Homo sapiens: one gene and its partners. The protein of the gene in region 4 purifies or fractionates together with the protein of the main gene of each other region. This does not show direct contact. Each region holds a gene or a part of one and is shown on either strand. Other genes may lie near its edges. The genes, in order: SH3PXD2A, MAP2K4, LPIN3, SH3RF3, DENND1A, RALGPS2 and SRGAP2.

What was found.
Region 1: the proteins of SH3RF3 (region 4) and SH3PXD2A purify together in Homo sapiens (affinity purification with mass spectrometry, with the first as the bait; one large-scale study listed by BioGRID). This does not show direct contact.
Region 2: the proteins of SH3RF3 (region 4) and MAP2K4 purify together in Homo sapiens (affinity purification with western blotting, with the first as the bait; one study listed by BioGRID). This does not show direct contact.
Region 3: the proteins of SH3RF3 (region 4) and LPIN3 purify together in Homo sapiens (affinity purification with mass spectrometry, with the first as the bait; one large-scale study listed by BioGRID). This does not show direct contact.
Region 5: the proteins of SH3RF3 (region 4) and DENND1A purify together in Homo sapiens (affinity purification with mass spectrometry, with the first as the bait; one large-scale study listed by BioGRID). This does not show direct contact.
Region 6: the proteins of SH3RF3 (region 4) and RALGPS2 purify together in Homo sapiens (affinity purification with mass spectrometry, with the first as the bait; one large-scale study listed by BioGRID). This does not show direct contact.
Region 7: the proteins of SH3RF3 (region 4) and SRGAP2 purify together in Homo sapiens (affinity purification with mass spectrometry, with the first as the bait; one large-scale study listed by BioGRID). This does not show direct contact.

Annotation. Positions count from the first base shown.
Region 1 is NC_000010.11:103,604,077-103,607,576, forward strand, and holds part of SH3PXD2A (SH3 and PX domain-containing protein 2A), read right to left. Parts: intron 1,842-3,500; coding exon 1,722-1,841; intron 1-1,721. UniProt on the Homo sapiens protein: Adapter protein involved in invadopodia and podosome formation, extracellular matrix degradation and invasiveness of some cancer cells. Binds matrix metalloproteinases (ADAMs), NADPH oxidases (NOXs) and phosphoinositides.
Region 2 is NC_000017.11:12,139,377-12,142,876, reverse strand, and holds part of MAP2K4 (dual specificity mitogen-activated protein kinase kinase 4), read right to left. Parts: intron 3,039-3,500; coding exon 2,993-3,038; intron 1,731-2,992; coding exon 1,617-1,730; 3' UTR 1-1,616. UniProt on the Homo sapiens protein: Dual specificity protein kinase which acts as an essential component of the MAP kinase signal transduction pathway. Essential component of the stress-activated protein kinase/c-Jun N-terminal kinase (SAP/JNK) signaling pathway.
Region 3 is NC_000020.11:41,343,821-41,347,320, reverse strand, and holds part of LPIN3 (phosphatidate phosphatase LPIN3), read right to left. Parts: intron 1,526-3,500; 5' UTR 1,518-1,525; coding exon 1,326-1,517; intron 1-1,325. UniProt on the Homo sapiens protein: Magnesium-dependent phosphatidate phosphatase enzyme which catalyzes the conversion of phosphatidic acid to diacylglycerol during triglyceride, phosphatidylcholine and phosphatidylethanolamine biosynthesis therefore regulates fatty acid metabolism.
Region 4 is NC_000002.12:109,127,705-109,132,004, reverse strand, and holds the start of SH3RF3 (E3 ubiquitin-protein ligase SH3RF3), read right to left. Parts: upstream 2,801-4,300; 5' UTR 2,465-2,800; coding exon 1,892-2,464; exon of another isoform or gene 1,886-1,891; intron 1-1,885. UniProt on the Homo sapiens protein: Has E3 ubiquitin-protein ligase activity.
Region 5 is NC_000009.12:123,920,127-123,923,626, forward strand, and holds part of DENND1A (DENN domain-containing protein 1A), read right to left. Parts: intron 1-3,500. UniProt on the Homo sapiens protein: Guanine nucleotide exchange factor (GEF) regulating clathrin-mediated endocytosis through RAB35 activation. Promotes the exchange of GDP to GTP, converting inactive GDP-bound RAB35 into its active GTP-bound form.
Region 6 is NC_000001.11:178,885,744-178,889,243, reverse strand, and holds part of RALGPS2 (ras-specific guanine nucleotide-releasing factor RalGPS2), read right to left. Parts: intron 3,276-3,500; coding exon 3,124-3,275; intron 1-3,123. UniProt on the Homo sapiens protein: Guanine nucleotide exchange factor for the small GTPase RALA. May be involved in cytoskeletal organization. May also be involved in the stimulation of transcription in a Ras-independent fashion.
Region 7 is NC_000001.11:206,458,541-206,461,738, reverse strand, and holds part of SRGAP2 (SLIT-ROBO Rho GTPase-activating protein 2), read right to left. Parts: intron 3,117-3,198; coding exon 2,792-3,116; intron 2,155-2,791; coding exon of another isoform or gene 2,065-2,154; exon of another isoform or gene 2,060-2,064; intron 703-2,059; coding exon 319-702; 3' UTR 1-318. UniProt on the Homo sapiens protein: Postsynaptic RAC1 GTPase activating protein (GAP) that plays a key role in neuronal morphogenesis and migration mainly during development of the cerebral cortex. Regulates excitatory and inhibitory synapse maturation and density in cortical pyramidal neurons.

The DNA of each region.
Region 1 (3,500 bases), on a different chromosome or scaffold from region 4:
CCCCTAAACTGCACTGTTCCCAGTCCCTACAATCCTGCCAGTAGACTAAGGACACGTATGAAGAAAACACTGCCCTTCTGCTGCCCCTTCCCTCCTCGTACCCTCGATGTTGCTAGGTCCTCCCTTTGAGTTCCTTGAAAGGGTCTCTAGGGTCAGAAGAGTATGGGAAGATGCAGATGAAGTGACCTGGGAGGTACAGGCCCGAGGCCAGAGCCTCTCTGCAGAGCCTTTCCCCAGGATCCACCCGCTGTGGTCATCTTACTGGAATCCCACTGAAATCCCACTAGCTGAAGAGATTTCTTTGGGTTGATTGGTTTCCTGTAGGAAGGGCAGGGGGCTTTCAGTCATTTCCATGTTAGTATAAACTGGTTTAAGGAGCTTCTTCCTTAACTTCTGGAGATCAACCAATGGCCAAAAGTGTGGCTGCTGGTTGTGCTGGGGTCCATTTGGACTGGGGAACATAAAGGGCAGATAACTGGGGATTGTGGGACACTCCTGGAGGAAAAGGTCCTGGGGTGGGGAAGGGGTAGCGTGAAAACACTGGCACTATGGGAAGAGGGCCAAGGAGGGAGGGAAAGGTGAAGAATGCAAAGGCAAGAAGAGACCAGTCCTCTGCATCCCCCACTAGAAGAGAAAGATTTTCTCCTTCTTTGGGTCCTACATTCTGTCCTTCACCCTGCCCCAGCCCTGTACCTACAGTTCAAGCACAGGTGGCTCCTGAGCCTGACAGTTCTGCCACATTATGCTCTTTACAGACTCTCCTGGAAACCTCAGTACAGAGAGAATGATTTTTCTTGGAAATTTAGTTGCAAGTTCCAGGCATGTGATTTAAAACATTCACATTGGGAATGTCACTGCTTTAGAGGCAGAGACTGCCCAATGAGTCTGACAGGTTCACTTGTATTAGATGGAGTTAACTCAATTACTACACAAAGCCACTCAGAGAATTGACTAAGTTACAGCTCTTCTCTGCTGCCGGGAATACCATGCTCAGCCCCAGCCACAAAATAGAGTGGCATGAATGCTGGAAGACATGCTGGGGGGTGGAGGGGCGTCCCAGGATCTATCACCCTGTTTTGCAGAGAGAAATGCTTAAAGTTGGGGGTGGCGGGTGAGAGAAGTGACTGCATCAAAGGCCAGGGGTCATGTGGTGTGGACTTGGCCAGAGCCCAGGTCCCCAGTATCTCAGTCTACCTGCCTGGTCCACATCCTCCTAACAACACTTCCTGATGTGGCTTCTGCAGGATCCTGGCCCTGAGATGTTCCTGGGAGAGAAAGCTTGTGGGGTTGGGCAATGCTGTCTATTCTAGACCCCTTGTAGGTGACACTCCCAGTGACATCCTTGTATCCTAGGCTCTGGGAAGCCCTGCAATTAAAACAACAAATGGGTTGGATTTTGTTTAATCCACTGTCCTGCAAGCTCATTTGACCAAAGAAGCCCTTTGTTTCAAGGCCCCCCTGTCACAAGCTCCTGCACATGCTCTGGGAAATGTTGTGAGACAAGCCCTGTGAGCTCAGGGTGGAGCGTGAGAGCTGGGATCTAGTTTAGGCCATGGCACTGGCCAGCGCCAGGCAGATGCTCATCTTTGTGGGGCTCATTTCTGTACCTTTCCTGCCTGCCTGCCCCTCAGGAATCTTACTAGCAAGGCCTAAAATGGGAAATGCAGTAGGTTTTCCACCACAATGAGTTAAAACCCTCGGCCTCATGGCCCAAGGCTTACCTCTGCCTTCTGTCCACCCCGAAAGCTGATGCCATCGGAAATGCACGACTGGAATTCGGCAATGGTGTAGTACTCCACCTCAACAGAAGGGGGCTCTGGTGGCTTTGGCAGTTGGAACCCCTAAGGTTAAGGAACACACAGTGGGCAAAACCCGCCTAAATCAGAAGAGTAACTTGGCCAAGGGTTGGTCCCCACTCAGTCCCCAGGGGGTGCGGATGGCCGTTTACACCAGCTGGACAGCAGCTGGCCTGAGTACGTATCTATCATGGGAGTCTCAGGGTATATATCGCCAGGGGACTACTCTGATGAGGCTTTCTAATAATACTCAGGACTCACGGAAGACTTGTCTGAGCTATCAAAATTCTCACATTACTATTACTATCATCATCATCATCATCATCATCATCATCATCATCATCATCATTACTCTGAGATAGGGTCTTGCTTTGGGACCCAGGCTAGAGTGCAGTGGAGTAATCAGAGCTCACTGCAGCCTCCATCTCCTGGGCTCAAGTGATCCTCCCACTTCAGCCTCCCCAGTAGCTGGGACTACAGGCACACACCACCACACCTGGTTAATTTTTTTTTTTTTTTTTGGTAGAGATGGGCTCTCTCAGGATCTGGAAGAATTTGCTAAAAAAAAAAAAAAAAAAAAAAAAAAAGCTCTCCCCCTCCCCCTCCCCTTCCCTCTCCCTCTCCCCACGGTCTCCCTCTCCCTCTCTTTCCACGGTCTCCCTCGGATGCCGAGCCGAAGCTGGACTGTACTGCTGCCATCTCTGCTCACTGCAACCTCCCTGCCTGATTCTCCTGCCTCAGCCTGCCGAGTGCCTGCGATTGCAGGCGCGCGCCGCCATGCCTGACTGGTTTTCGTGTTTTTTTGGTGGAGACGGGGTTTCGCTGTGTTGGCCGGGCTGGTCTCCAGCTCCTAACCGCGAGTGATCCGCCAGCCTCGGCCTCCCGAGGTGCCGGGATTGCAGACGGAGTCTCGTTCACTCAGTGCTCAATGGTGCCCAGGCTGGAGTGCAGCGGCGTGATCTCGGCTCCCTACAACCTCCACCTCCCAGCCGCCTGCCTTGGCCTCCCAAAGTGCGGAGAGTGCAGCCTCTGCCCGGCCGCCACCCCGTCTGGGAAGTGAGGAGCGTCTCTGCCTGGCCGCCCATCGTCTGGGATGTGAGGAGCCCCTCTGCCTGGCTGCTCAGTCTGGAAAGTGAGGAGCGTCTCTGCCCGGCCGCCATCCCATCTAGGAAGTGAGGAGCGCCTCTTCCCGGCCGCCATCCCATCTAGGAAGTGAGGAGCGTCTCTGCCCAGCCGCCCATCGTCTGAGATGTGGGGAGTGCCTCTGCCCTGCCGCCCCGTCTGGGATGTGAGGAGCGCCTCTCCCCGGCCGCGACCCCGTCTGGGAGGTGAGGAGCCTCTCTGCCCAGCCGCCCCGTCTGGGAAGTGAGGAGACTCTCCGCCTGGCAACCGCCCCGTCTGAGAAGTGAGGAGCCCCTCCGCCCGGCAGCCGCCCCGTCTGAGAAGTGAGGAGCCCCTCCGACCGGCAGCTGCCCCGTCTGGGAAGTGAGGAGCGTCTCCGCCCAGCAGCCACCCCGTCCGGGAGGGAGGTGGGGGTCAGCCCCCGCCAGGCCAGCCGCCCTGTCCGGGAGGTGAGGGGCGCCTCTGCCCAGCCGCCCCTACTGGGAGGTGAGGAGCCCCTCTGCCCGGCCAGCCGCCCCGTCCGGGAGGGAGGTGGGGGGGTCAGCCCCCTGCCCGGCCAGCCGCCCCGTCCGGGAGGTGAGG
Region 2 (3,500 bases), on a different chromosome or scaffold from region 4:
GTTTTATATTCCAGTGTGCTTGAACCACTCACAGTGCTGCTTCACTGTCATACAAAGCCTAAGGTTCAGTGCCAGGGAGGCCCAAGCAAAACCTAATGAGAACCTGGCTAATGGGTAAGTGAAGAAGCACAAGATACTTAAATGGCCTCTTGTAACAGTGCTGAGGGTTTTGTTTTGCTTTTTGTATTTTTTTCCAGTAGAATTCCAATGCCAAGAAATGGTGATGGACTACGAGAGGTTCTAGCAGGTGATGAACGTAAAGGCTGCCGTTTCGGATCCTCATCTGGTCCAATGTGTCTCTAGAAAAGATGCCTCTTTATCACCTACCACATCGGCTGGGCCCCACTATTCTTAGCCTTTTAAACACTAGCGAATATGAGAGATTTGGGGCTAAAAATCCTTGGTAAGGAACATCCCTGCTAACTGTAAAGGTTTTTTGATATAGAAAAAAGGCAAAATATTGGATTAAGCGCAAGTCACATAGCGACAATAGACCACAGGGGAAGGGAAAGAGATTCGGAAACTGAAGACCTGGACCAGTGATGGCAAGAAGCAAACAACTGAGATTTGGTCTTTTGCTGCCTACTAGAAATCTTTATCTAATCAATCAAGGCACATTGCTACTAGCTACTTCTCCCTGTTAGTGAGTTATGATGGCTAAAGTATCAGGCTTGGGACCAAGGGGAAATATATAGCTGCTACAAGTTGTTCCAGATAAAATACTAGAATTAAAAACATCTGTAAACTTTGCCTTCTGTACTGTTTTCTTCTTTCAGTCCTGGTGGTTTGTGGCAGGTGGAACATCAAGTTGGCAGCACACCGAATTCTGAGAATGAAAAATTCTTAGGATCAGCACCTTCTTTGACAAGTGGCAGACTCCTGAGTCTTCCCATTGAAAAATAGGACTGGTAAAGGAGAAAAGAACACATTCTGTCCTGTCTCTATATTTTAATGTTCACCTCTTTGAACGCAACATGGTTTTTGGTAAAGATAAATTCATTCTAATTTAACATGATATTTCAAACAGGAAATTTGGCTGAGCACATCGATCCCCAAACATCAACTGTAACTGTAAAGCAACAGAATATCACATCAGTAATCTATTGCACTTGGTGAAGAAAGTAAATTCCTCCTTTGTCTCCCAGCTCCAGAAGGCAATGTGTCTCGTTGGCTGTGCAAGCTCTTCTCACTCAAGCCCGAGTTTCTATGTTCAGACATAGTACATTCATCACTGTGTCCTTCCAGGATTTGGAAGTCTGACAAAACACCATTCCAGTAGCTGCATCTCCAGGTTTTGAGTCTAGAAATGAATTTAAGATGTGATCTAATCACAGTCAACAACTTGATCGTACTGACTTCCACATTTCATGAATATGTTCATCACAAAAGAGCAGGATGAGGTCTCTCTGACCAGCACTAACACTGTGTGATCAATCAGGTATTACAAGGATGCACGTTCTAGGTGACAGGAGTATACAGACATGATGGAAACGAACACCAATCTTATTGCACATGGTGTCTGGGCGAGCAATAAAAACACTGTGATACGGGATGAAAATTCTTTACGTCTTGCTTCCTCTCAGCCCTTTTTTCTAGAGTCTGATGTAGCAGCGATATCAATCGACATACATGGGAGAGCTGGGAGTAGCTGGCATTTGATCCAGGATTTTACAAACATAGCATGCGACCTCAACGGCACGTTCTTCATACATCAAAATAAAGGGATGTTTCTGCAAGAAAATTGAAAACAAAAAAGTCAAAAGTTTGTATGACAGCCCAAACTGAACATTTTCCAATTTCTATAGAACATAGAACTCCAGGCTCCCAACCACACATAGCTATGAAATACCGCAACACTACAAGTTCAGAGAGGCGAGTACAGCCTTTATTCCATGCAGATATGCTAATGGGCATGGGCATGCCTAGAGAGAGGATACGTGGTAATGATCTGAAGGTGCCACCTTGGCAGTGAGGTCTGGAAACTCATCTGTATACCAGGGAGTGTTTGTTGAGGAAGACAGCCAAGTTGTCACTCAGCACAAAACATAGCTGGAGCCTCCACCACACCATCTAAGAGCTAAGAAGAATGACGCAAATGCCAGTCACTATTCCTCTTGGGACACCAATATAAATCTCAACCTCCATTTCTCCTATATACAACAGGAGGACCTTTTTACAAAAAGGTCGCAATCCTTTTGACCTCTTCTTTTGACCTTTTAACAAAAAGGCTGTAATTCTTTTGACCAAAAGAGGCCCAAGAGAAATTTGCCCCAGGAGCTTCTTCCCTGTACTCTCCAGAGCCAGGGTCCCAGTATCTGCTTCACTAACCCACCTTTTAAAACTCCATCTCTAGCAACAGTTTTCTTTTACAGACTAAGTATGTTGACTAGATATTTTTACAGTCATTGGTGGACTGTGATATAAGTTTGTCACAACATCCTTGAAGAGCTAGTAGTTAAATGTGACAAACAAATGGATCTTTTCTTAAAATATTCCCACATTATTAGATCACAACACTTTCTCCCTGCCCCACCAATGCCATACCCAGTAGACTGCTTAAAACACCCAAGTTCCATGGGATGAATGAGAACTTTCAAAGAAATGGGAATAGGCTATATGACGTAAATTTGCATGAATTTTATAAAGGCAGAATAAACACAAATTTTCACTAATTTTTTTCTTATGGCTGCATCCCATATAAATAGACTATGCAGTGGAAAATGGCTTCTTAAAGTCAGAATTCTTTGGGGGTAATTTTTATAACATGTTAAGACCAAAATTTTCCATGAGAATTTAGCTAGTATTAGTAGAAAAATTATAACTGCAAATTTTCTCTTTCCAAATCTTTGTGTAAAAACATTAACAAAAAACACTCAATAAATTTGAGATGTTTGTTTATGACAGAGAGGCCCACTGCTTGCTTAGTGAACCAGCATGTTAAGAGAGTTCCGGGGTTAGGATGTACCTACAATCCCCACAGTCCCACACTCACCAGAAGCTCTTTATACTTTGGCCTTTTGGATTCATCCTTCGTAAGGCTAAAATAACATAAAAATAACATTATTAAAATGTAGATTCATTTGCCTAAGTATTTTTCTTTTCACAGATGAAATATTACAAATAATGAAATAGTTCTTTCCTTCAGATCCAAAGTAACAACGCAGACAGCCTGCTAAACACAGTAAAAGCACATACAAAAAATTGTGAGTCTATAATCTGAAGATTTATCTCTAGGATAGTCAGTGTAGGATGATTAGTTAAAAATTAGAAAAAATATTAATTCTTGAAAATTGACTAAATTATGGCATAGCTACACAGAATACTACAGTTAAATATATAAATGTTTTATAAGTATAAAATTATTTGTGTACATATATGCTTTTCTAAATGTAAATAAATAAGTAGACAGATATTTATGCAGATACTACCCAAGAGAAACCAGCAATCAAGTAATTCTGGGAGATAAATTACATATACATTTTTATCAATTTATCCTTAAG
Region 3 (3,500 bases), on a different chromosome or scaffold from region 4:
CACACTGCCCCACTGTCTGAGCCTCATTGTACTTGTCACTGTCTCGGTCTTCTTGTGTATTGCCTGGTTTCCAAGTTCTTCCCTCTGTCTCTCACATCCATAAGAATAGGGACGTGGTCTCTCTTGTGATCGCTGTGTCCCCAGCCCCCAGGTTATTGGCTGCATAAACAATGGTGGGAATTTTAGTGTACTGGCCCTTTGTGGAGTGTTTTCTATAGATTATCTCATTTAATCTCTGCAACCCCTTGCAGTAGCTCCTATCATTACCTCCACTTTACAGATGAGGAAACTGAGGCTTTGGGGGTTTGAGTAATTGGTTAGGAGGCAGCCTCACAGCAAGTGAGCTTATGAAGCCAAAAAGGCTGAGTCTACAACCCAAGCTACTAGCCTCTTAGATATACTATTTCCCATAGGCTACACTTTTCTATTAGGATCCTGGAAACGTCACAGTTGCCTCAGTGTGAATCTTGATTCACACCCTAGACCTTGCTGCTAACAAAAATCTCTGCTGTGCTTGCCTGAGCCCTGTGAAGGTGGAATGGATTTATTTATTTATTTTTATTTATTTATTTATTTTTTGAGACGGAGTTTCGCTCTTGTCGCCCAGGCTAGAGTGCAATGGCACAATCTTGGCTCACTGCAATCTCTGCCTCCTGGATTCAAGCGATTCTCCTGCCTCAGCCTCCGGAGTGGCTGGGATTACAGGTGCCCACCACCACACCCGGCTAATTTTTCTATTTTTGGTAGAGACTGGGTTTCACCATGTGGGCCAGGCTGGTCTCAAACTCCTGACCTCAGGTGATCCACCAGCGTCGGCCTCCCAAAGTGCTGGGATTATAGGCGTGAGCCACCATGCCCAGCCTGAAGTGGATTTATTAAGAGAGAGAAACTAACATTTGAGTGTTTCCCACATAGCTGGCCCTGAGACAGTATTATCAGTTGCTATTGACTTGTCCCACCAGCATCATTAGGCCGATAAAATCATATCCATTTGTGCAGGTGAAGTAACTGGGCTCAGAGGCATGAAGTGACTTACCAAGAACACACAGGTAAGGTCTTAGTAAGCTGAGCCAGGTCTGACGGCCCCAGCACTGGGATGAGCCCTACTGGTCTGTTTCCATGAGAAACTAACTGTGAACCCTCCCAGACCAAAACCCCCAAATCAACCCAAAAACCTTCAAAGAAAGTACAAATGAAGGGAAGCCTGTCCAGAGGACAGATCCCCACCTAAGGGAGGCCCCAGGTCCTGTCCTGGGACTGTAGTGGCTGCCCCAGCTTAAAAAGCCCACTCTGCAGTAGCCACCTCAGCCAGCCTGAGCACTCACCACCTTCTCCCGCGACCGCAGGACGCCCAGCTTGCCAAAACGCACGTGGAAGGGTGAGCACCGGAACGAGCCGTCCACCTGCTTCACCACCAGCACGTCAATGCCGCCGCTCAGTGTGGCTGGGTTCAGGCCCCGGTACAGCTCCTTCACCGTCCCAAACACCGTCTCCGCCAGCTGCCCCACGTAGTTCATGGCTGGTGCTGGCAAAGAAAGGCAGTGGCTTGCACAAAGGTCTGCTCCAGCTCCTCCACAAGAAGCTCCTGCAGCCTGACCACACAGACCCCCAAGTTTACATTTGTGTCACGCCTTGGAGTGCCTTTGCACAGATGGCAGCAGCTGTGCGATGGGAGGTACACCTGTAGATGTGGGTCTAACCCCAGCTTGCCCACTGCCCTGCTAAGGGACCCTTGGGCAGCCGCCTCCTTCCCCAAGTGCCGATGTCCACATCTGTAAAATAGGGCACAAGGTAAAACAATACCCAGTTGCCTCGTGCCTCTAAATGCCATGACTAATGATAATGACCACAGTGTTCCGTGGGTACGGCTCATTTCATCTTCACAACAACCCTGTGGGGCTGGCTGAGCGGGTGTCATTATTCCTGTTTACAGATGAGCCAGCAGAGGCTCAGAGAGGTGGAGTGACCTGCCCAGAGCCTCATAACTATGAAGGAGGGAACCTGAGATCTGAACCCAGGTTTGTGTGGTTCCACTGGGATGGTCCAACTGTGAAAACGGAGGGGGTGGGAAGAGGGGGCAGCCTCATTAGATAGCAGGCCCAGGGCCCTGCTGGATAATGGGTGACTGTGCTAATGAGTACTCTTCTTTTCCCAAGAAGTGGGAACGAAGGAGCCTCCACTTTTCCATCTGAGAAATGGGCTCAGCTGTCTTGCTATCTGCTGGTCCTGTGAGTTGGAAGGTGTCTTGCTGGGCGATTGTAGCTGACTTATGGGGGACCAAGGGTGGGAGCACCCCAGGTACTCAAGGCTCTGTTCAGCCCCATTCCTGGGGTCAGATGCTCAAGGCAGAGCATCCCCTATAGCTGGGGGCTTAAGGCCCCAAACTACAAATTCCTTCCCAGTTTCCCTGGTGGGAAGCCTGTCCATGCACAGCCTGACCCCAGCGGTGTCCAGGCTATAGTTCTCAGACCCCAATTTCAACCCTAACCCCAGCTCCTCAGACCAGGGCTGAGCTGGCTAGGCGCTCAGACCCACAATCAGGCCTTGGGCTGGCCTCAGCCCACTGAAGCTGCTCCCTCCCCCAGCCAGACCGGTCTCTCCAGCTTTCCCACACCAGACAGGCCTGGGTAAGCCCAAAGCAGGAGGCTGAGGCGGCCTCAGAGAAAAAACAGGGCTATGATGAGAGCCTCCTCCAAGCTGGCACAGTGCCTGCCCCAGCAGCTTCAGGTGATCACCCCTGCCCTCCTGGCCAGGCCAGTGGCCTGCTGCCCCTCTGCCTGCCAAGACCCAGACTGTCCTATCTCTACAGAGCACTTTCTTCTCTCAGACCCTGGGTCAGAACCCCTGGAGGACAGCCTGCCATGCAAGACCACTTAGCAAAGAAGCTAAGTGACTTACCCAAGGTTAAGTGACTTTACAGGTGAGGAAACTATTCAAGCTCTTCTAAGCTGACAGGCCATAGAAGGGGTATAGGGAGGGGAGAGAGGGAGTAAAGACTCATATCCAGCTCTCCTGACTCTAGAGCATGGTCTCCTTCCACTCCATGCTTCCAAACCACCCAAGAGTTGGTTGCATGGCCCATGGCCACTTCTGCACAGCCCTGCAATGCCCTGCACTCAAAATGTGGTATGCACCAGCAACAAACATCAGCATCAGCATCACCTGGGAGCTTGTTAGAAACAGAAACTTAGGCCCAACTCAGCCCTACTGAATCAGCATCTGCATATTTTTCTTTTCTTTTCTTTTCTTTTTTTTTTTTGAGACAGGATCTCACTCTGTTACCCAGGCTGGTGTGCAGTGGCACCAAAATGACTCACTGCGGCCTCAACCTCCCAGGCTCTAGTGATCCTCCTGCCTCAGCCTCCTGAGTAGCTGGGACTACAGGCATGTACCACCATAACTGGCTAACTTTTAAATTTCTTTTGTAGAGACAGGGTCTCACTATGTTGCCCACGTTGGTCTCAAACTCCTGGACTCAAGTGATCCTCCCACCTTGGCCT
Region 4 (4,300 bases):
GCCTGATATGCTATTACAATCCTTCCCACTCCCGAAGCATGTGCTGGACCTAATGCTATTATCCCAGCATGGTAGTATAGTGCTAGTGTAGTGTGAATACACCATGCGGGACTCCTGCTTATTAGTTAAATAAGTGCTCGTCTATTAAACAACATCCAGAAACATCCCAAAAACACAAAAAGTCATGAACATGACTATGCACCCATAAAGAAAGTCAACCAAGGGTCTCAACATATGGTGAGTAAAACATCAATTTCCTGCTAATACTAAATGTCACTACTAAAAAGTTCCAAGCTTCAACCCCTTTGACAAGTTCTAAAAGGTACTACAAATGCCACAGAATTCCCGGAGTGGCATCAAAGCTTCAGCCTGTCACATGTCAGAGGTTACCTCCTAACCTCCTGGTCAAACACAAAGTCCCCCAAGATAAACTGAGAGGACATCTGTAAACAGATGGTCATCAGAATGTCCCAGCGTTTTACTAGAAGCGGGGCTCCGAATATCACATAATTTATCAGAACAGAAGAAGGTAACCCACTTATTCTGCAAATAAAGATATTTAATTATAAATACCTTACATCAAAAACAGCAAGGCCAGGAAGGAAAAGTTTGAAAATTTCTAACGCAAGCATTTAGCTGGATTTAATCACAATTAAAACCAAAGAAAAAAATTCCCCTTCAGCAGTGCCCCCCAAGTGACCCCCAGTGACTATCCTTGACTGTCCCCATTCTTCCTGATCCATAGAAAAAAAAACCCATTGCAGCAAAGTATGGCATTTAACTCAAGCTCAACATCCAAGGGTTTAAGTTCCTAACCTTAACCTTAGAGATTTGCAGTACTGCCTAATCCAGGTGCTAGAATGTTCCCAGCATTTCAGGATTACACATAGTGGAAGGACTAGGCATCACCAACTCCTTAAATGGTCAAAAGTAGAGGAATAAAGTTGTGTTTCTAAAGCAAATGATTATTCCAATAGATAATGTATTTTTTTTAACATTTAAGTGCTTTTCTCCATTTAAAGAAATTAACAAAACCCGGGTCCTTTCTTTTCTCATTTAAACCAGCATCCCATGCCCTCTCTCCTGGTAACTGTTCACAAGGTGGCAAGGGTGTGTAATAAGAAGCTGTAAGAAGCTTTTAAAACCAAATCATTGAAGCCATCCAGAGAAGATCTTTCGTCTAAAACAGAAGCAGCGAAGGCCCTAAAATGCGGCTGTACCAAAAATAATAATAATAAATATAAATGACCCCCGTGGGAATGCAACCCTGCCTGGGAGCCCAGGAGAAGACCTTGGCTTCTGGTTAGACACTGCCAAGTCCAAAAGGGCTGGGTCAAAAGGCTCCTGGGGCCTCCAGATTAACTCCTTCCAGACTACTAGAAGCATTCCTCCAAACCCCAGTCCCACTCTGCCTTCTGCCCTCCCCTCCTTAGCCACACCGCAGGCAGGAGGCCCGCGGGCTTCCCAGAGCAGCCATCAGAGCCCTGTCAGAAACGTTAAGGGCTAACTTTTCTCTAGGCAGGCCCAGGGTGTGCAGAGGGAGTGTCTGGGGACCCAGAGGAAGAAGGTCCCCGTTTCTAGGGAGACGCAAGGGCGATGCTAAGTTTAAGAGGCAGGGTAACAAGTCCGGCCAAGGAATCGGGGGTGAGCGACGGGACAGGAAGGCGTGCCCACTCCACAGGAGGATGGGACACACGTGAACAAGCGGCGAGCTGCCCAGGGGCCGGATGCCGCCACCAAGCAAGCGAAGTTGGAGGAAGAGCAACAGCGGAGTGGGCCAACGCAGGACCACCCGTGGTCTCCTCCGCACCTCATCACTGCCCCCCACGCCCAAGCACCCACCCACACACTCCCACGTGCCGTGGCCACTTCCGCCGAGACAGATACTCACCTTTGCCGCCGGCGCGGTCCTGCTGGTCGCCAGCTCCCGCAGACTGCCGGCGGTGCTGCCCGCGGCCGCGGAGAGGAAAACCGGGGAACCCGGGGTGCTGCCTGCCGCGCCGCCCCCGCCGCCCGCGAGCGTGGGGGCCGCACTCTGGCCTGGGATGGGACGCGCGGGCGGGCTGCCGCCGGGGCTGGTGCCCGCGCGGGGCCGCTGACGGATGCCGTCCAGCAGTCGCACCAGCAAGATGTTGGCGGGCAGTTCGTCCACGCCGCAGCCCACCAGGATGCGGCACTCGGGGCAGCGCAGCTCGTGGCGCGAGCACACGATGCTCTCCAGGCAGCGGCGGCAGAAAGTGTGTTGGCATGGCAGCACCTTGGCCGTGGTGTCCAGGCGCTCCAGACACACGGAGCACTCCAGCAGGTCCAGCAGCGACGACTCGTCCATGTCCTCGCCCGCCCCCGCGGCGGTGGCCGCCGCCCGACGCCGCCGTCGCTCGCCTGGCCTGTCCTCGTCGCCCTCGCTCTGCGCAGCAGCGGCGGCCGCCTTGGATGCGCACAGCCAGGACGCTCCGAGCAGCATGGGGGAGGCGCCCGCAGCGGTCTCGCGCGGCTGCCTAGGTCCCGGGGCCGGCGTGGAGCCCGCCACCGGCAGCCAGCATCAGGACTGGGGAGCCGGGCTCCGCCGTGACTTTCTTCACCCCGGCTGGTGGCCCGATGCTAGGGCTGTGGCGGTGCGAAGTGGCTCACCGACCGGCCTGCGTGGCGGGGACCGGCCTGCGTGGCGGGGACCGGCCAGCCGAGCCCGCCCAGTCCTGAGCGCAGCGCCTGCGGCTGCGGGCTACACCTGTCCCGCCGCAAGTCCGCCCCGCGCGGGGGACCGGGGGTGCTGCCGGGCACGAAGCTCAACGGGTTCTGTGCTGCAAGCGGCGGCTCGCGCCTGGGAGACCAGCGGCAGGAAGTGCGGGCAGCGGCCGGCCAGGTCCCCGGGGAGGCCGGGGCGCGGCGTGCACGCTCCTCCGCGCAGCTGGCGAGCCGCACCGCCCCCGCGGCACCTCCATGCGCCCCTGGCCTGCTCGCTAGTCGCTGTCCTCCAGAGGATTCAGCAGGACCGTTCCTCTTCCTCGGCCGCGAGCACGTGCGCGGGGGTGCGCGCGGAGGTCACGGTCACTGCGGGGCTCAGGGAAGGAGGCGCCGTGCCTGCAGGACTTCCCTTCGCTTGGGCGCAAGCCGGCGATTAGCCTGGTCCCCTAGGACATCTCCAGGGCTCCGGGGAACCTCTCCTGCGCAGGCTTGGCCCTGCCTCCTCCAAGCGTCCGAGTCTTTTTCGGCTTTTCGTGAGCCTCAGAGAGGGACGTTTCCTGCCAACGCTGCTGCGAAGGAAAGTTTGGGCGGCGTTATCCCGACTGCCTTCCTCGCCAGCGCCGGCGAGCAGCTTGGGGACACAGCCGACGCCCGGGCATCCTCCCCGACGACCCCCCGGAGCGCTCCCAGTTCAGACTCCTTTCCGAGAAGCGCGCAGAAGTGACAGCCCCGGAGCTTCGTTCCGGTGTAGGTGTGGGGATGCGCCGCAAGGCAGGAGGGGAAGGCGCTCCAGTTGAAGGGGGCACCCCGGGGCCCGCGCCGACTCCTCCCGGCGCAGCCTTGGCTCGCCGGAGTCGCGGGTCGGAGGCTGGCGCCGCTGCCCGCCGACCAGCACCCTGGCGCCAGGCGCCCGGCTCCACGCCGCACCCTTGGCGACGCTGTGCGAGGGGCTCTAGCGCCCGCCGCGGCGCAGTCTCGTGAACCCCCGCTCCAATTTTTTCCTACGGAGGCGCAGAGGAGGGTGAATTCGCGCTCTCCTTCCCGACGCCCCGGCTTCTGGGAGCGTCAGAGCAACGGAAGTACGTACAGGAGGACCGAGAGCAGCAGGGAAGTTTGGCGGTGGGCTGGGGTCGGCGGCGAAGATTCCCTGCCGTGCGCTGCCCCCTCGTGGCCGCTTTGCGTTCCCGTCGGGAAGGGCTGGGTTCCAGTCCAGGGCCCAGCACAAACCAGGATTGGTTGGACGCTGCACAGCGAGTTCAGTCAGGGCTAACATCAGAAGAGTCGTGGGGGGCCTGCCTATCGGCCAGCCTGTCCTTGTGGTTTGTGAAGTTGTATGATCTTTCTGTTATTATTAAGGAAAAAAGTAGTATTTGTTGAGGCTAAAAGGCCAAGAGCGTGCTATATATTATTTAATCCTCTAAACAGCTCTGCCAGATAATTATTTTATTTATTTATATTTACTTCCATAGCTTTAGACAGGATCTCGTTCTGTCAGGCAGGCTAGAGCGCGGGGTGCTATCACGGCTCACTGCAGCCTCAAACTCTTGGGCTCAAGCCATCCTTTCACCTCAGCCTCCTGAATAGTTGAAACTACAGGTGCGCCACCACGCCTGGC
Region 5 (3,500 bases), on a different chromosome or scaffold from region 4:
AAAGAATAAAAAATCACTTTAAGGCCGGGCATGGTGGCTCAAGCCTGTAATCCCAGCACTTCGGGAGGCCGAGGCGGGCGGATCACCTGAGGTCAGGAGTTTGAGACCAGCCTGGCCAAACTGGAGAAATCCGTCTCTACTAAAAGTACGAAAAATTAGCCGGACATGGTGGCAGGTGCCTGTAATCCCAGCTACTCAGGAGGCTGAAGCAGAGGAAGCTTGAATCCAGGAGGTAGTAATTGCAGTGAACCAAGATCGTGCCACTGCACTCCAGCCTGGGCGACAAGAGCAAGGCTCTGTCACACACACACAAAAAAAACACTTTAAAAAGACTGAAAAGTAGTACCAGTTAAACAGAGATAAATATAAATTATTTGTATAAATCTTTTATAAAACTGAATAGATTTCCAATATTTATGATAAAGGGAACATTAAGTGGTTTTTTTACTTCAAGACAGGGTCTTGCTCTGTTGCCCAAGCTAGAGTACAGTGGTGCAATCTCAGCTCACTGCAACCTCCCCTTCCCGGGTTCAAGCAGTTCTCACACCTCAGCCTCCCAAGTAGCTGGGATTACAGGCATGCGCCACCATGCCCAGCTAATTTTTGTAATTTTTTTTTTTTTTTTTAGTAGAGATGGGGTTTTGCCATGTTGGCCCAACTGATCTCGAACTCCTGACTTCAAATGATCTGCCTGCTTCAGCCTCCCAAAGTGATGAGATTACAGGTGTGAGCTACCGGGCCTGGCTGGGGACATAAGTGTTCTTAAATGTTATAATTCTAATTGTTTGCACGCTCATCTTACCTGTCTTAGTAGACTATAGGCTTCCTTTCTTCCCAACCAGCAAGAGCAATAGTGCTTTGTATATATCAGCATCTCAATCTTTCAAACAAATTCAGTGAAATACACTACACGTCATCCTAACATTCTTACTGAAAGGAAGCAAATACTTTGGTTTTTAAAAACAAAACCAAAAAAAACTGTAATACTATAAAAAGGAACATACTTGCTGTTTTTTAACTTGTTTTTTAACTCCAGGTTGTTCAGACAACTGTGTTTTCTCCTCTCCAAGCAATATTAATGATAGCTGCCATTTAATAAGCAGTCATATCTCCACTGAGAACTAGGCACAATATCTCTTTTAATTATCACAACAACCCTGTAGGTTAATTTATTAGCTTCCTTCCATAAATATTATTTTTTTAACCTGAAGCTCAGAAATTTAGAACTCAGAGGGAGAATGTATAGTTCTGGGAACTCAGTACTCCAATGCTCACATACCCCTGGCTCCTCTCACACCCCGGAGTTCAAGAACTGCCAGCGTGGAGTCAAACAGTATCTTCTCTAGATTGGTTTCCTTCCTTCCATTTATTCATACAGCCTATGCGAGATCAATGCAACACCCTCAAACCTTTCCTGTGGCTAAAGTGAATTCAAAAGGTGGTTTTTCTTTTCCCCCTCTCTAAATCTACCATGAACAGATTTGCCTTCAGCAATTTAGTCCAGCCCACTTCAAGTCTTACTCATTCAATAAAGCACACACATTCACTATGGATCCCTCAAAGATTCCTTCCATTCTCAATGCAGACTAAAATGCCTTATCCCAATTATAACTTTTCACTTTTCCTCAGAAAAGCAAACATATAACCAGTCCTCACCTCACAAATACTCCATTTGTAACATAACTCTGCTAACCTTGGCAAGTCATCTTTGATTCTTCTTTTGCCTCTTACGTGTAATTTGTCACCAAGTCTTGTCATTTCTACTTAAAATCTCTCAAAGCCATCCTTTTTTTTTTTTTTCTTTTTTCTTTTTGAGACAGGGTCTCACTCTGTCACCCAGGCTGGAATGCAGTGGCGTGATCTTGACTCACTGCAACCTCCGTCTCCTGAGCTCTGTGGGAGCTCAAGTGATCCTCCCACCTCAGCCTCCCAAGTAGCTGGGACCACAGATACATGCCACCACACCTGGCTAATTGTTGTATTTTTTTGTAAAGACAGAGTTTCATCATGTTGCCCATGCTGGTCTCAACTTCCTGGACTCAAGCCATCCACCCTCCTTGGCCTCCCAAAGTGCTGGCATTACAGGCATGAGCCACCACGCCCGGCCTGTCATTCCTTTTCTTTACACTGCCAAAACCTTGCTCTGGACCTTGATCTTCAGCAGTAAAAACTATTTACACAGTTCCACAATCCAGTGGCCTCCCATTTTTTTCCATGCATTCTTCCTATCAGTAAAAAAGTGAGCATACATCTGATAAATATCCATAAATTATAATAATGCCTTACTATACTAACACATACATTAAAAAATACAAACTTTGAAGGTTGATATAAAAATAAATACAATTTCTAACATATTCTCACGTTCCAATGCGTCATCTTGTAAAAGCCAGAGATATCACTGTTCTAAACTGCTGCTGCCAGGGTAATCTACCTAAAAACCCAAATCTGATCATAGTACATCCCCAGTTCAACCCTTCAATGGCATCATATCCCACTGGCACATGCCTACTTCATCAACTTCCTCTCCTGTAATCTTTATCCTTATATCCTGTATTTCAGCTTTACCTTTTATCTCCCCATGACTTTTGCATACACAGTTCCCTATATCTGGAATGCCCTTGCCCTCAACAGTTACTGATTTGTACATAACAGTATCTTGAAGAGGGAAACACATTCTAAATGTCATAACCAACGTCCAAATGAACTTTTGGAATGTCACCTCTCTTTTCTATAGGAACATATATGTATTTTAACATATCTTTTCTTACTTTATTTGGCTCCTTTTCAAGTCCTGAATACTCGGAAAGAATGGGTACGGATTCCAATAAAAGTAGAGAACAAAACAACTTCATTTTGTTTATTTTTCTTCCTTGTTTATCTTTCCATGTCCCTACAAAGCCCCTTTAAGCAAAAAGGATGTTACGAACCCAGAGATTAGCTCTCCCTAGGGCCAGGAAAAAGGCTGGACCTTTGCAACTGCAACCGGAACTCCAGCCAGGAACTTACACAGATTTAATAACTCAATGCAAACATACTTTCCTAGAGCAATACTCCAGGTCTTACCTTCTGTTTCAACCTTCCTATCTGCTGTACAATGCCCTCTAAGTTGACTACAATGGCTAAGAAAAGAGTGATGGAGTAGCACCAACATGTTTTCCAGAAAAGTCATGAAAATTCAAGTGGCTGACTCTGAGCACTAACGATGGAGAGCTTGGTCTTCAAAGAGACTTTTATTCCACCACTCCAAGTCTCTCTACATTCTCCTTTGGGGACAGGGAGGACAGCACTGTGGCGGAGAAAGGGAAGAGGGGAATAGGCATTAGAGGAAGAAGGCCTGGAAGGAAGTCACATTCCAATTCTTGGTCTCATCACAAAGCAGAGAGATACGTTAGTTGTGCTATACAACAGGCCTCAAGAAAAAGCAAACTTTTTGTGTATTTTGGCAATGGGATCCTTTAAACAAACTGGAGCAGAGCTATCATAAGCCAACACTGCTC
Region 6 (3,500 bases), on a different chromosome or scaffold from region 4:
TTAAAGTCCATTACTACCCTAAGTATAAAAAGCCTAATGAAATCCACTTATTTGTCTCTAGAGACAAAGAAGATGGAATCTCTAAATTTAAAAAACCAAAAACCGGTGCTATAAAAATGCAACAATTTTCTCTTTGGCCAAAAGATCAGTTAAAATAAAATGGTCTTCAAACAGAACGTTTACAATTAGCTAGGGGGAAAAAAAACCAACAAAAAAACTATGGGGAATGAATTTAGAGAGTCCAAAACAGCTTAGTTTACTTAAATGTTACTTTAAAGGTAATTCTGGCTCTCAAAAAAATTAGGATGATTAATAGGTCAAGTTAAATTGTCTATCAGACAGGGTTCTAAGAAGAGAGACTCAAACTCTTTTTTACGGGCAGGGTTCTGAGAGACTCAAATTCTAATGCTGTAAGGTATCCATCAGACACCTGTAATGGATGCTGTAAGGTATCCATTAGACTCGTCTCTCTTAGAGACGATGGATTAATACCCTTCTACGGGTTTGCAATGGCACTAGTTATGTACCATCCTTGGATAAACTGAGATAACAATCACTGAAATAATTTTCTGTATTGTATGGTTCAGAAGAACCAGAGGTAACCCGTGGTGGTGGTGGGGTCTTGTACATTATCTACATTATCCTTTGATTTGTGGCACTATGTGGTAAAGACTGAAAATTTAAGCATAATTAGGATAACTTATTTGTAGAAAATGTAAGCATGAAGCTCAGAGTGAATATGCTTCTCTTAGTTAGCTAGGTGAGACTACTCAAGATTATCTAGGATAGATACCACATTAGAAAATGTTTAAGGCCATTGTTCTAAGCACTGGTTAATTTTCCCACAGTATTTTCAAAGCCTTCACTGTAGATTAATATTGCATGTAAAAGTTAAAGCTGAGGGAAAAACTCGTGTGTGTATATTAACACCTATCATCTTATGGTAATAGACTTATTCTTTTTTTCATATTGTTAAAGCTTTAAAACAAAAATCCTCGAAGGTAAATGCCTATGTGTAATGTTCTTAGTTTACAAACTAGGATGCAATGATCTTTTACTGTTTACTTACTTAGCCTTAGAATAATTAAAAAATAAACACAAATGCAAAAATCTGCTCTAAAAGAGAAAAGTCTCCACACTGAGACACTAACTGTAACTCAATAAAATAACTAAACAATAATCTTTTGGTAGCCAAAAGGACATCCATGAAAAGTAAAAGCTATAAACTACAGAATAATTCTCATTATAACACTTATGAGAAAGAGTAAAATATTATATACTTGAGAGCTGTAATTTTAAAAACTTTTTGCTTTAAGTGGCATGCCAAATTCCATGGACGTGTAGAAAATTTTTGACTGAAAAAAAGTTCTTTCTTTTGCAAAATTATTCTTCATACTGAGATTAGTATTTGCATATAGGCAACTTAGAACATTGATAAGAGGTATTTCAGGTGACAAACTTGCCTTCTTTTTAAAACATTTTATCATTTAATCACTTGTATTTTTATATAAAAAGGGGACTATCAGAATAAACAACTACTGAATGGTAATGGAGAGCTCTGAAATAATTTAATTTTAACTCTCAAGGGCTAAGAAAGTCAGTATGTTCCAGAAAATCAATCTCCTTTTGCATCTCCTTCTACTGGCTGTTTACCAATATTAAGATATTAGTAACAATAGGCTTAGTCCTTGAACAATCTGGTAGTTAATCATAGATGAAGACATATTCCTCCTTTATTTCTTTTTAAAAATAAAAGTAGCTATTATATGAACAATTTCTTTCTTTTTTTGAGACAGAATCTCGCTCTGTGATCCAGGCAGGGTAGTGCAGTGCTGCGAACATGGCTCGCTGCAACCTCTGTTTCCTGGGTTCAAATGATTCCTATGCCTCAGCCTCCTAAGTAGCTGGGATTACAGGCATGCACCACCACGCCCTGCTACTTTTTGTATTTTTAGTAGAGATGGGGTTTTGCCATGTTGGCCAGGCTCATTTTGAACTCCTGACCTCAAGAGATCTGCCCATCTGGGCCTCCCAAAGTGCTGGGATTACAGGTGTGAGCCACACTGCCCAGGCTATATGAATAATTTCTAATTGTAACAAGAAATAATGCTCATCTAGAAGACTCAAAAATTAAAAGTTTAGGAAGTAAAAACAAACAAATCCCTCTCTTAATCTCACATCCCTTTCTAATATGGTCTCTATTTTCTGCTCTCCTTCACAGTAGCTATCTCTGTTTCCTCACCTCTCATTTTCAAATCTACTCCAATCCAGGCCATGCCCTGACACTTCCATGAAGCAACTCTTATCAAGGTCACCAATGACTTTTATCTTGCCAAATCCCCCAGTCAATTCCCCATTCTCATCTTAGCTCTCTTGTTCTGCATTTGATATTCACACATTCAGTACTTTCCTCCTCCTTGAGATACTTCATCTACTGGGCTTTTGTTTTTTTCCCCTTACTTCACTGATCTCTCCTTTTTAGTTTCCTTTGATGACTCATCCTTCTTTTAAAAAATAATCAGACTTCTAAATGTGAGAATGTTTTTTTATTTATGTACACTCTCTCTTTAGGTACCCTCAACCAATCATGGCTTATAAATATGCTACCTCTCGTATATCTTCAGATCTGACCTTATCCCCGAGCTCCAGATTCACATATTCAACAACCTACCTGACATCTCCATAGGGACTAAACATGTCCAAAACACACCTGATTCCCCAAATTCACAAACGCTTCACTGCCCACAGATTATTACTCTGTCTTCTCTACCTTGGTAATAGCATCATCATCTAACTATTATACTTGTTTAACCCAAATAACCGGAAGTCATTCTTGACTCCACACTCTTCCTCCTCCCCATATCCAAATCACATGCAGTTAACTAATTCAACCAGCCCATATGTTCTTTTTCCACCTTCTTCAAATGCTTCCCCTTCTGGAGTTAAAAACAGCAAGCACTTTTAAAACCATCACAAATTATTAACTTCATCCCATATTTAACTGCTACTTTGTTTTTTTAACCAAATTTTCTCTGTGTGTGGGTGGGGTTTTTTTCCAGCCAAGTTTTATTAACATTTTTATTTAAAGTTAAATTGCAACCCTCTCAGAGAAGTATTTCTCACCTATTGATATTCCACTAGAAAGAGTAGAACTTTCAGCTTGGCCTCGAGATGGCGCATGGGGCTCCATGACGCTATCATCTAACAGATGTCTTGGTCCTGCATTTGGAAACGTTGCACTCTTAAATTCTGCTGTGTTCATTTTATGAATGAAACTAGAAACAGAAAAAAAAGTTCATATCTTTTATTATTGTTACTAATTTAAAAACTGCTCTTTATATAAAGATTTAGGACATAAAAGATTTACCTAACTGTCATACTCAGATCTTACCATAAAAGCCTCAAATGAACAGTTTAGGGAAAATGTTTTAGGAAACCTGGCCCTATCTATCTATATAATTAGAGCATACTTTAAAATAATTTCATTTTAAGCCTCGTGT
Region 7 (3,198 bases), on a different chromosome or scaffold from region 4:
TGAGCCCATGTCCTCAGGACTGCCTTACCAGATTTCACAGTGACCTGATAATGAAAACCTGTCTCTGGCTAACCTAAGAACGGTACGGACTGCAGCTGGCTGAATTACGACGACTGGGGGAAGCAGAGGGCAGTGGGAAGGGAGAGGCGATACCAAGGGCTTCATTCTCAAGGTTTTGGGAGACGGGGAGGCTAATTCCTGCAAGAACAACTTAGAACCTAATTTTCAACTGAAGTCCCCAAGCTAGTTAAATAGGAAGATTTTAATAACAGTCAGTCCCTATAGTCCCCTTGTCTAGAACAATTAAATTATTATCCCTCAGACAGTACAAGACTTGTCAGTAGACTGTGGGGAAGTTGATGAGTTGACACCAGGGCTAGTGGCATTTGTTTTGGGGAAGACAGTGGGCTTGGGCCGTGTGGCTGGTGGTTTGACCGGGGCAGCCATCTTGACAGACTTGACAGGCCGGAAGGCGCAGGCGATGTCCCCAGCAGTACTGGCGCTGCGCTGGAAGGCGGGCTCGGGGTCCTTGAGGAGCTGGGTGTGCAGAGGGCTGGAGGGCTCTGACGTGGGGGCCACCACTGGGGAGGTTTTGAGGGGCTCCAAGGTGTCCAGAACCACGTCAGGGGTGTGTTTGACACTGCTCTGCCGTTCTAGTTCCCGTAGCTCATTCAGGGCCGAGTTCATTGTTGCCTCAATATCCTGCAAAACAGGAAAAAGGAGGAGGTGAGGCAAATGAGGGGAGAATTCCCCAAGGAGCCGGTTTCAACAACACAGGCCAAGGCATGAAGAAAATGACCGTAAGATGTCCAGATTATTGTACTTGGCCTAAATCTTTGAACATATGAATGCTCAGGAAGTAGGGAAAGGGGGACGGAGGGATTTTCACTGTCATGAGATTTTTTTTTTTCCTTTAGAAAAAGTAATTGATATTTTTTTAGAGACCCTAGGTTTTAGAGATAGATATTGAAATACTTATCGACGAAGTGACATATAATCTAGTGGGGAAGAGAAACACGGACAAAGTAAGAATGGCCAGGAGTTTGGTGATGAGTACATGGGGATTTGTTATCCAGTTCTGTCTGCTTTTGGGTAGGTTTGAAATTGTACATAATAAACACTTTTTTAAAAAGTGGTAGAGATGATGTATGATCTTTATTCTCTTGGACTTCAAGGCCAAAGGTGAAGAGGGTTAGTCCTTCCTCCTCAGGGGCTGAGGAAAGTTTCAGGAGCCCAATACGCCTCCCCCCGCCCCTCCTCCCCAACTCAGGGCAGTGTCCAATTTGAAACCATTTCCTTCCAGCCATCACCACCAAGGGGACAAAAGAATGACCAGGAAGGGGAGCCAAAGCCCACATAGGTGAATCAATTGCCTGCAAATCAATGGAACACTCTAGATCTTTAGCCAACAGCAGTCCTAGCCCAGGGACTCAAGGCAGAACCAAAGAACCTTTGTATGCAAGCCAGCTGCCTTCCAGTGAGACTTCCCAGCTCCCCGCTCCCTCCCCATAAACCTGTGTCTGGCACCCCCAAACTACCACAGGATTTCTTCTTGGGATTAGGTTCACATGGAAAGATTTTACACATTCCAAGCGAAGGCCTTTGGTTAAGGTTTCTTTGTCGTACAGACCGATGCATGCTTTCTGTTCACAGTGATTCAGTTTCACTCATCCCTATGACATTCTCAAACCTTTAAAATGCTCAGGAAGAACTCCATCTCCCTCCTCAGTCGCACTCTACAGCTAGTCTGTCCCAGCTGTCTACCTTTCCTGACATTCCTATTAACACCTGGCCAAGGAGGGAGCTGGGAGGATTCCCGTAGCGCAAGGCAGATTGCAGCCAAGAGCTTAAATAGAGGCACAGAATAGAAGGCTAGCAAAGCAAGACATCTCAGGCCTGTAGCTCAATACTGGGCTTGCCAGGTACATCTCCGTAAGCAGAGAACCACAATTAAGCCAAGAGAGACCATGCCCAGCCTCTATCACCCCCTGGAAGATGGGGTAAGGAGAATCTCAACTCAGTTGAGATAAGAAGGCAACAATAAGCCCTTAGTTCCTACCTGGTCTAATGAAAATTATATAGTTGGGAGAGACGTCTGAGTGAACTGCTTGGAGTGGCCCCGGTAGTCGGATTTTTAGAGGTGGGGTTGGATCTCTAATATTTCATGGAAAACAGAGAGTCATCAGTGCGGTGCATACACAGAAGGAAGACCCTGCAACCAGGGAGCTCATCTCCATAGCCTCTGGAGGCTTGGGCTGCAAATCCTTTTGGTTACCAGAGCTCTCTGCAGCCAGAGTATTTTTTAGGTCTTTAAAACCAGGTGCAGGTTCTTAATTGATCATCTACCCATTCGGTACCAGAGACTAGCCTTAGGAATCGGGATGATGGTGATGGGCACAGCAATATAAACATGTGGCCAGGATTACACCTGATCCTCAACAGTCGGGCAGTTTCACTAAAGTCTACCAAGGTCTTTAGACTCAAAACTTGGGCTTTCAAAATACTCTTAATACCGGCTTTAAAAATTACAACAGCCTTCCTAATAGCCAGTGTATGAGCAAGAAGCTAGGCTTCTTTTATTCTGTCTTTAGGTTCTTCCTGGGGAGAGAGGGACAGGCAGACCACTTATTAAGCTGTCTTATTGGGTCCACATGTCCAGAGTGGACATATACTCAGTATATCACATACAAAATAATCATTCTGTTTCAAGTCCTGTCATAATTAGGTGGGTGGCACTAAGTGGTAGTGATGAATGTAGACTCATGCTGTCTGTCCAGGAGCCCACAGTTACCTGAGCAATGACCTCAGGGTCCATGGGCCGATGGTTATTGAAGCTTTTTGACCTTCCCGCTGTGGCAGTCTTCCGGATCTGTGGACTATCCAGCCGATTCTTCAGGGATGAGTGGCGGCTGATGGAGTTGAGGCTCCCGTGCCCACTGATGGAACACTTATCTGGCCCTTCTTTGGGGAGGCTCTGGCTCATGATGGGCTGGGAGGATGGGCGGCAGCTAGCCCCCACCCCTGGGGAGGAGGAGTCAGTCAGGGAACTGCTCAGCCCATGGCTGTCACTCCGAAAAGTTTTCCGGATGCTCCCAGATTCTGGACGCTTCCTTTGCCTTCAATCACAAACAGAAAGGGCAGTGTGATCAGGGAGCCCTGGCTCCAAGGAAGCTAGGATAAGTGGGAGGGGGCAGATGT